Regions from separate parts of the Homo sapiens genome. Here region 2 is linked to region 1. Evidence: fine-mapped expression QTL. A gene starts in region 1. The other region holds a variant in brackets. All regions are shown on one strand. Distances are between the middles of the regions.

Region 1 (4,390 bases):
TTGATTAGAAATGTCTCTGGATGAACTTTTCTTTCATTCAGACACGTATGCATGCAGCAGACGCTTACTGAGTATATACTGTGTTCTGGTCCACATTTTCACGACTACGATTTCACTTGCTATAATCCCCATGGCCACCCAGAAGCATGTTCCTATCACTAGACTTAATGTAGTGCCCTGCATATAGCTGGTCTCAATAATTAATTTATCCAATGAATACTATTTAATTTTTGGCACACTTATGCCTCATCTCTTCAGATCTACTCCGGGGGTAAAGATTGGGTTTTATATTTTTTTGTAGACCAAACTGTCTATCTGCATGCTTTCCCCATATAGTTGGGACTCAATAAATGTTCCTTCATTTGGCTATGATTTAAACCCATCTCAAGTCTTCTTTAATCTTTGTTTTTGATCTAAAAATAAGGCTATATGAAATAATGGGGGACAAAGGTTTTGATGACTCTGAATTCTACCCCTGTCACTTATTAGCTGTGTGATCTTGAACAAGTTCCTCAAACTCTAAGCTTCTGATAATTTATTCTCACAACAGAAATAATAACTATGGCCAGACGCAGTGGCTCATGCCTATAATCCCAGAACTTTGGGAGATCAAATGGGAAGGATTGCTTCAGCCCAGGAGTTCAAGACCAGCCTGGGCAACATGGCAAAATCCTGTCTCTATAAAAAAATTAAAAAAAAAAAAAATTAGCTGGATGTGGTGGTATGCAACTGCAGTCCCAGTTACTCAGGAGGCTGAGGTAGGAGGATTGCTGGGGCTTGGGAGCCGGAGGCCACAGTGAACCAAGATTGTGCCACTGCACTTCGGCCTGGGTGACAGAGCGAGGTCTTGTCTCAAAAAGAAATAGTAACTATGGGCCGGGCGCGGTGGGAGGCCGAGGCGGGCGGATCAGGAGGTCAGGAGATCGAGACCATCCTGGCTAACACGGTGAAACCCTGTCTGTACTAAAAAAAATACAAAATATTAGCTGGGCCTGGTGGCGGGCGCCTGTAGTCCCAGCTACTTGGGAGGCTGAAGCAGGAGAATGGCGTGAACCCGGGAGGCGGAGCTTGCAGTGAGCCGAGATCGCGCTACTGCACTCTAGCCTGGGCGACAGAGCGAGACTCCATCTCAAAAAAAAAGAAATAGTAACTACTCACGAGATTGTTGATGAGGATTAAATAATGCATGTAAAGCACTCGATGGATAGAAGGTACTATAACCATAGGAGGCAACTATAATTATTTTAACTACATGCCTCTCAAGTTCCTTATACGTAAAATGGATACTTCGTAAGTGAAAATATTGCCTAGGGCCTGGTGCATTTTCAGTGCTTATAAAATGTTAGGAACTAATTAACAATGCTATGTCTCTCTTTCCTAGCCAAGGTCTCTCATTTTTCCTGGATTAAGCCCTTTGGCAAAACAGATTCTTTCCCAGCAGCCTTTTCAGGCCTCAGACACCCCTACCAAAGCCAGTGTCTACTGAACAGGCCCAGAGGAGCCCAGAGGGAATGGATGGGGCTTAGGTTGCAGCTGTCCTCTCCTGCTGGGACCCTGTTTCTGGTGAGCAGAGGACTGCTGCTCTGCCAGCTGTGTGACACTTTCATCACTGGCTATTTCAAGATACAGTCCAAGATAAGCACTTCTCTTGTGCTTCCTTTCAGACAAAGCTCTCTGAAGACTAAAAGCTCATTGGCCTGACCTTTGGTCTCTGGAGGAAGTGAGGAAATATCATCCAGCTCGTAGACAATGAAGACACCAAGCACTCGAGGGATGAGATTGAGCAACAAGGTGGCAGAGCTAGAGAAGAGGCCTGATAAGAGTGTTCCAGAGCATTAATAATTGTGATAAAAATAATCTCTGTCTCTTGTGAAGGTCTTACAGTTTACAAGGCATCTTCACACATACTAGCTTGTTGGCTCCTCAACACTCCTCACCTGAGACTGATGGAGCAACAGTCATCTCCGTTTTAGAGAGGAAGAAACTGAGTCCCAGAGTTGTATGATTTGCCCAAGGTCACAGAGGGTGAGAGGCAGAGCTGGCCTAGAACCGGGTCTGCTGACTTCGAGTCCAGGGTAATCGCGGATCGGAAAGAAGGAATGGGGACCCTTCTTCCACCGCCATGAAAAACAGAAAACTGAGAGTAAGAGTAAAGTACACAAAGGGTGGAGGAGCATAAAGAAGCCCGGGGTTCAGGGATGTGAGGCTGCAGGGTGAAGGTAGGGCCGAGGAATCAGGGTAGGGCTGTGGGGTCCAAGGTGGGGCTGCGGGGGCTGGGTCCTGGGACGGGAGCTCAGTGGGGATTCCAGGGGCACTGGCCGTTAAAAGTGCGAGGCGACCGTGGGAGGGTCAAGGGAGCGGGTGGCTACAGGTGTCTGAATAGGAAACGTAAAGGACGAAGATTAATGTGCAATTCCTATGACTGAGAGACGCCGAGGCCCCAAACCGGGCCAGAATACAAAAGTCTGCAGGAAGCTCAATTGAGATATAGGTGTTTTCTCCAATCAAACTTACCCAGTCAAGCTGATTCCTCAGAAGCAGCCCCAGACGTTTAACTCGACGGAAATGAGAAACGACCCATGAACCCGTGGCCCTTTGGTCGTCGTAGTTTCCAAGGCTCAAAATGGACGCTTGGAAGCACTTCTCGTTCCTCAATCTAGAACTACAATTCCCGATGTACAGTGCGCGAGATTGCGCATTACAACTCTAAAACTACACCTCCCAGAGTTCTACGCGACCGTCCAGCCCCGCGTGGTCGTGCGAAACCGCCCAAGGCCTGGGATGCGGTGTGATTCCTCCCCCTGGTGGCCTGAAGAGGTGCCGCCGCGATTTCTGCTCTCGAGCGGAGGGTTTTGCCTTAGTCCCGTGCGTAACCCTCCGCCTCACCCTCCTCAAATAGTCCTCAGGCGTGCCTAGAAATGGTCCCCGCTTCGCTTTATTCTCAAGGAGGTGGGAGGAGGTTGGAGTTTGTTTTGTGTCTTCTGCACACTTTGCTTCCTGTAAGAATAATAGACTGATCATTCAAATTAAGGGGACATTCCCTACCAGCCTGCATCTGTTGACACCTGTGATTTTCCATTGTCCTCAAAAGACTCCCTGGCAGAGAAAGGGGAGGAACCCGAGTAATCTGCTGGGCCGCATCCATCCCACATTACTGTCTAATGCTGGTTCTTAGCGACACTGATGGACAAGATACCGCTCCTAGCCTCAACAGAATCACAGTCTAGCAGAGAATTCAGACAAATGAATAATGACAGCACAGAGCCGTGATCTCATGGGGAGACACAGCAAGCGTGGGAGCCTTGAAAAGGGGCCTCTGGCCAGGCTTGGGGGAAAAGGGCGGTGTCCGCAAGGCTTTTTAGAGGGAGTGATGTTTGTTAACATTGAGACCCGATATAAGGAAAGAACGTAGCCAGGAGTACAGAGACTGTGAAGGACGTTTCAGAGTATGGCATTAAGTTCAGTGCTGGCTGCAGCTAAGTGTGAGGGATGGAAGGAGAGTATTCTCGGGGGAGTGGGCGTTAGGCAGAGCCCATCCTCAGGAGTTCTGTAAACTTCTATAGGAAATTTGGATCGTTCAGGCAGCTCAAAAACGTTCAACGGCCCTCTACTACCTATGAAGTGAAGTCCCAACTGCTTAGCCTGACATTCAAGGTCTTCTCCAACCTGCACTCCCCCACGCCCCACCCCCCACCCTTCAGCGCCCCTCCTCTGGGAGCTTTGTTCATGCCTCCAAAGTTTCCGCCGACATCTGTGTGTGCCTCGCACATGTGAGTCGACTCACACTGCCTTGGGTATCTCCTGTATTAGAGGTCTTAACTCTTGACACATTGTGAGCTCTTTGAGGTCAGGTACTGAGTCCTGCAGTCGCCCCCTCCACCCTACTCTTGCAGCCCACATCCCCCCGAAACACCAGGGTCCAGAGTCCCTGCTTTAGGCTCTCCTCTCCTGCCGACACACTGTTGTCACCCCCATCCTTCCAGGAGCCAAGATAAAGTCATCAGGAGAGAGTGCTGGCAGCCCTGCACTGTGGTAATTAAGCCTCGGATCTCATTAAATCTGTGGCTGATGGCGGTGGCCACAGAACCTGAAAAGCTTAGCGCAGATCAGAGAGCGGCTCCCTTTGGCCCATTAATCCGTGCTGTGCAGCTGGCCAGAACACTCACGACAAGCCAGAGGTCCTTGGTCATGAGAGGGACAGCTGGAGGTCATTTCTTTCAGTCTCCTACTCCCAGACCAGGCCATGCTGGAGCCATTTGCTGGCCAGCTGAGTTTAAAATTTCCCAGGGATGGGCATGTCACCACCTCCTTTACCTCCTTTGTCACAGTTAGGAAGCTCTTCCTTGGGCACAATCAGATTCTTCCCTGTTGCAAAATAAAACAGTTGAGT
Region 2 (4,390 bases), 35 kb before region 1:
CCAGGCTGGAGTGCAGTGGCGCGATCTTGACTCACTGCAACCTCCGCCTCCTAGGTTCAAGTGATTCTTCTGCTTCAGCCTCCTGAGTAGCTGGGATTATAGGCGCCTGCCATTACGCCAGGCTAATTTTTTGTATTTTTAGTAGAGACGGGGTTTCACCATGTTGGCCAGGTGGTCTTGAACTCCTGGCCTTAAGTGATCTGCCTGCCTTGGCCTCCCAAAGTGTTGGGATTACAGGCATGAGCCACCACGCCCAGCCTTCTTTATTTTTAAGATGGGGTCTCGCTCTACTGTCCAGGCTGCAGCTGAGTTTTAGCTGACCAAACTACTTCTCTGTTGTGGCAAAGGCCTGTGCAAATGGCCATTTAACACTGTTGTTCTGTCATCTTCCCCATCTCAACCTGCTTTTGTTGTTTCCTATCAAGATACACTTAGCAAAACCCCCAAAGACATCCAGAGCTTCTGAGGTACCTCTGTGTACCTCAGTTTTTCTCCCTGTGCTGTGAGAGCCATGCTGTCTGCCACTCTGTGGGCTCACAAGTATAACTTACTACTGTAAGTATAAGTAGTACTATGTTCCATACAATGAGAAGACTTGGAAATAAATAGAAAATGTGATCACGGCTCACACCTAGAAATTTACATAAAGTGCTCAGACTTCAACAAGTGGCCCTGGGGAGGGAGAAGGCTGAGAGGTAGGAAGAGATGGTGTTGGGCTGGGCTAGAGTCTCTGAAGGTAGGGATTTTCATTCTGTCCTTTGGCTTCATCTCTTCCACTGAAGCAGCAGCACTGGCCGGGGGTAAGGGAATGAGCTTCGCTGGGCTGAGTCTTCACATCCAGGCCTCACAGTGCTCAGCCCGGGGCCTGGGTCTCCCCCAGTCCCACTCTACTGCTTGTTCCCCACTCCATCAAGGTCCCAGAAAGTCTGTTTGTCAATCAGCAAGGGATCCCAGTCCCAAAGTGATTTTAAGATCAAATCTAAGATCAAAGTACCCAGTTATCCAAGCAGCAGTGTGATTACACCTTTCAATCTGTGAAAAGGGGTCACGTTGATCACTTCTTGATAGGAGCTCATGGGTGCCCTTGGGTAGCTCCCAAATGAAAACTTGGCTGAAGTGACTTTACAAATGGCCAGTTGTGCCTACAGGCTGGACAGATGGTGGGGGGCCCCTGGGGTGAGCGACGGTCCAATGCCTTCAATAAGGTTGTTCCATTGATTATAGTCTTCTTTCAGGTCTGAAAAGGAAAAAAACAGGAACATTAGGCAAATCATTGTGAGGTTTGGTCAAAGAGTAGCTGACATGCATTGAAGGGGTCATCCTAGAGAGAGGAGCGCCTGGGATACCAAAAGGACTGGTTTTGGTGGGGTTGTGTGGTGGTGGCGGTAACGATAACTATCATTTATTCAGTGCCTTTATAAATGACTTACATAATCCATAACAATTCAATAACGATAATAATAACAGAGGGTAACATTTATTGATGGAGAATTCATTCTAAGGATTGTACTAAATGCTTTACATTCATGGTTTCATTTAATTTTCACCATATCCCTATGAACTAAGTATTAATACTAATCTTATTATGTAATTCAGGAAACTGAGGATCAGGGAAGCTACCTGAGTTGCCCAAGGTCATTAGAGCTATTAAGTGGTAGAGACAGAATTCAAATCCAAGTCAGAAAGGCAGAGAGGGCTGGGCATGGTGGCTTATGCCTGTAACCCTAGTGCTTTGGGAGGCTGAGGCAAGAGGATCACTTGAGGCTAGGAGTTCCTAGACCAGCCTGGGCAACGTAGCAAGACCTCAACTCTACAAAAAAATTAAGAAATTAGCTAGGTATGGTGGTGTGTGCCTGAAGTCCTACCTACTCAGGAGGCCAAGACTGGAGGATTGCTTGAGGCAAGGAGTTGGCGGCAGTGAGCTGTGATAATGCCACTGCACTCCAACCTGGGCAACAGCAAGACCATGTCTCAGAAAAAAAAAAAAAAAGGCTGAGAAAATGAAAAGTCTAGTTCCAGGCTCAAGGAGGTTACTAGGCAAAAAGCAGTATCTGACAGCTCAGCCTGTGGGTGCAAATCCAGGA[C/A]CACTTCAGTGAAGGGCAGGAGCAAGAGGACAGCAACATCATGGAGCAGCGAAACTCCAGGAATGACTCAAGAAGGGGCCCTGAGCTCACAGCCAATAGGGGTAACTACACGGCAAGAACAGGCACAAAGGGTCCAAGCCCTCAGGCTGAGGGAGCAGGGCAAGCTAAGCAGATGAATGGTGTCCTTCCTCAAAACAAACAGACTCTGGGACAGAAGGCAGGGACCACTCTCATGCATTTTTGGATTCCCAGTGCCCTGCCAGGAACCTGGCACGGAATAGGTCCTCAATGTATAAGTACTACATAGTCATTAATTCAAAAAACAATAAGCACATCCACTATGTGCCACACTCTGTTCTTTGAGCTAAAAATATATCCACAAACAAAACAGATGGAAACTGCTGTCCTCACAGAGCTCATCATCTAGTGGCAGAGACAAACAATAAACATAATAACTATATAGGATGTGAAAAGGGGAGAGGTGCCATGGAAAAAAAATAGAGCCCGTTAAGGGAAGCACTGGTGGTGGCCAGGGGTTGGAGTGAAGGGAGAAAGGAAGGACCCAATGTTTTTTGTTTGTTTGTTTTTTCTTTGAGATGGAGTCTTGCTCTGTCACCAGGCTGGAGTGCAGTGGTCAATCTCGGCTCAACGCAACCTCTGCCTCCCAGGTTCAAGTGATTCTCCTGCCTCAGCCTCCTAAGTAGCTGGGACTACAGGCATGCACCACCACACCCAGCTAATTTTGTATTTTTAGTAGAGACGAGGTTTCACCATGTCGGCCAGGACGGTCTCGATCTCTTGACCTTGTGATCCGCCCGCCTCGGCCTCCCAAAGTGTTGGGATTACAGGCGTGAGCCACGGTGCCTGGCCAGGCCAATGTTTTAAAAAGGGTGGTCAGGGTGGGCCTCACTGAGAAGGTGAGATTTGAGGCCAGGCTTGAAGGAAGTGGGAGTGTGCCACGAGACTATCTGAGAGGAATGTTCTAGACAGAGGGAGGAGCAGTGCAAAGGCCCTAAGGCTGCAGCGTGCCTGGCGCGTTCGAGGCTCATGTGGTGAGAGTGAAGTGAGCCAAGGGAAGAACAGCAGGGGAGGAGGCCAGGAGGGACTGGAGGGCCACATGACATATACCTGGCAGGATAATCGAGTCTGGCTTTGGCTCTTAGGGAGACTGGGAGCCACTGGAGAATTCGGAGCAGAAGAGTGAGAAGATCTCACTAAATTCCTAAAAGGATCACTCTGGCTGCTCTATGAAGAAAAGACTCTTCAGTGCTCGCTTTGGCAGCACATATACTAAAACTGGAACAATACAGAGATGAGCACGGCGCTTGCACAAGGATGACATGCAAATTCGTTAAGCTTTCCATATTTTTAAAGAGAAATAAATAATAATACCATGATTGAGGAAGCCAAAATAATAAATAAATAAATAAAATGACTCTTCAGTAAAGTTTCAGGATACAAAGTTGGTGTACAAAAATCAGTGGTGGTGATTTTTCTGGGTGCACTGGCTCATGCCTATAACACCAGCACTTTGGGAGGCTGAGGCAGGAGGATCGCCTGAGCCCAGGAGTTTGAGACCAGCCCAGGCAATAAAGTGAGACACTGTCTCTATAAAAAACAAATGAAGAAACAAACAAAAATATCAGTAGCATTTCTATACACCAATAACAATCAAGCTGAGAACCCAATCATAAACTCAATCCCATTTGTAATGGCCACCAAAACAAAAACAAAAACAAGAACAAAACAAAACAAAACCTAGGAATACATTTAACCAAGGAGGTGAAAGATCTCTACAAAGAGAGCTACAAAATACTGATGAAAGAAATTGTAGATGACACAAACAAATGGAAAAAACATCCCACACTCATGGAATGGAAGAATCAATGTTGTTAAAAATGACCATAATGCTCAAAGCAATTTACAGATTCAACGCAATTCCTATTAAACTACCAACGCCATTTTTTACAGAATTAGAAAAAAAGTCCTCAAATTCATATGGAACCAAAAAAGAGCCTGTCAAAGCAACCTTAAGCAAAAAGAACAAAGCTGGAGGCATCACATGACCCAACTTCAAATTATACTACAAGGTTATAGTAACCAAAAGAGCATGTTACTTGTATAAACACAGAAAAATAGATAAATGAAACAGAATAGAGAACCCAGAAATAAAGCCCCCATACCTACAACCAACTGATCTTTGTCAAAGTCAACAAAAATATATACATGGGGAAAAGATACCCTATTCAACAAATGGTGCTGGAAAAATTGGATAGCCATATGAAGAAGAATGAAACAGGACCCAT

Which allele goes with the higher level. Positions count from the first base shown, and alleles are read on the strand shown. Sizes are in standard deviations (SD) of each study's normalised expression.
In carriers of allele A in region 2, the expression in transverse colon of the gene that starts at base 2,553 in region 1 tends to be lower than with C alone (small effect, 0.12 SD a copy in GTEx).

Evidence for each region. PIP is the estimated chance that this variant, and not a neighbour inherited with it, causes the effect.
Region 2: its variant is the best candidate, but not a certain one, in a credible set for the expression of PAFAH2 in transverse colon (GTEx, PIP 0.64).

Annotation. Positions count from the first base shown.
Region 1 is chr1:25,995,511-25,999,900 of GRCh38, forward strand. PAFAH2 (platelet activating factor acetylhydrolase 2) reads right to left here and starts at 2,553. Exons shown (of 11, transcript NM_000437.4): 1 at 2,515-2,553. RefSeq lists enhancers at 2,299-2,378, 2,549-2,638, 2,649-2,698.
Region 2 is chr1:25,960,847-25,965,236 of GRCh38, forward strand. It overlaps PAFAH2 (platelet activating factor acetylhydrolase 2), which reads right to left. Exons shown (of 11, transcript NM_000437.4): 11 at 1-1,237. The coding sequence ends at 1,143. It also overlaps the pseudogene RNU6-110P. Among named protein-coding and RNA genes, the nearest start is that of PAFAH2, 35 kb to the right of the region's middle. The variant C/A (reference allele first, on the strand shown) is at 2,085.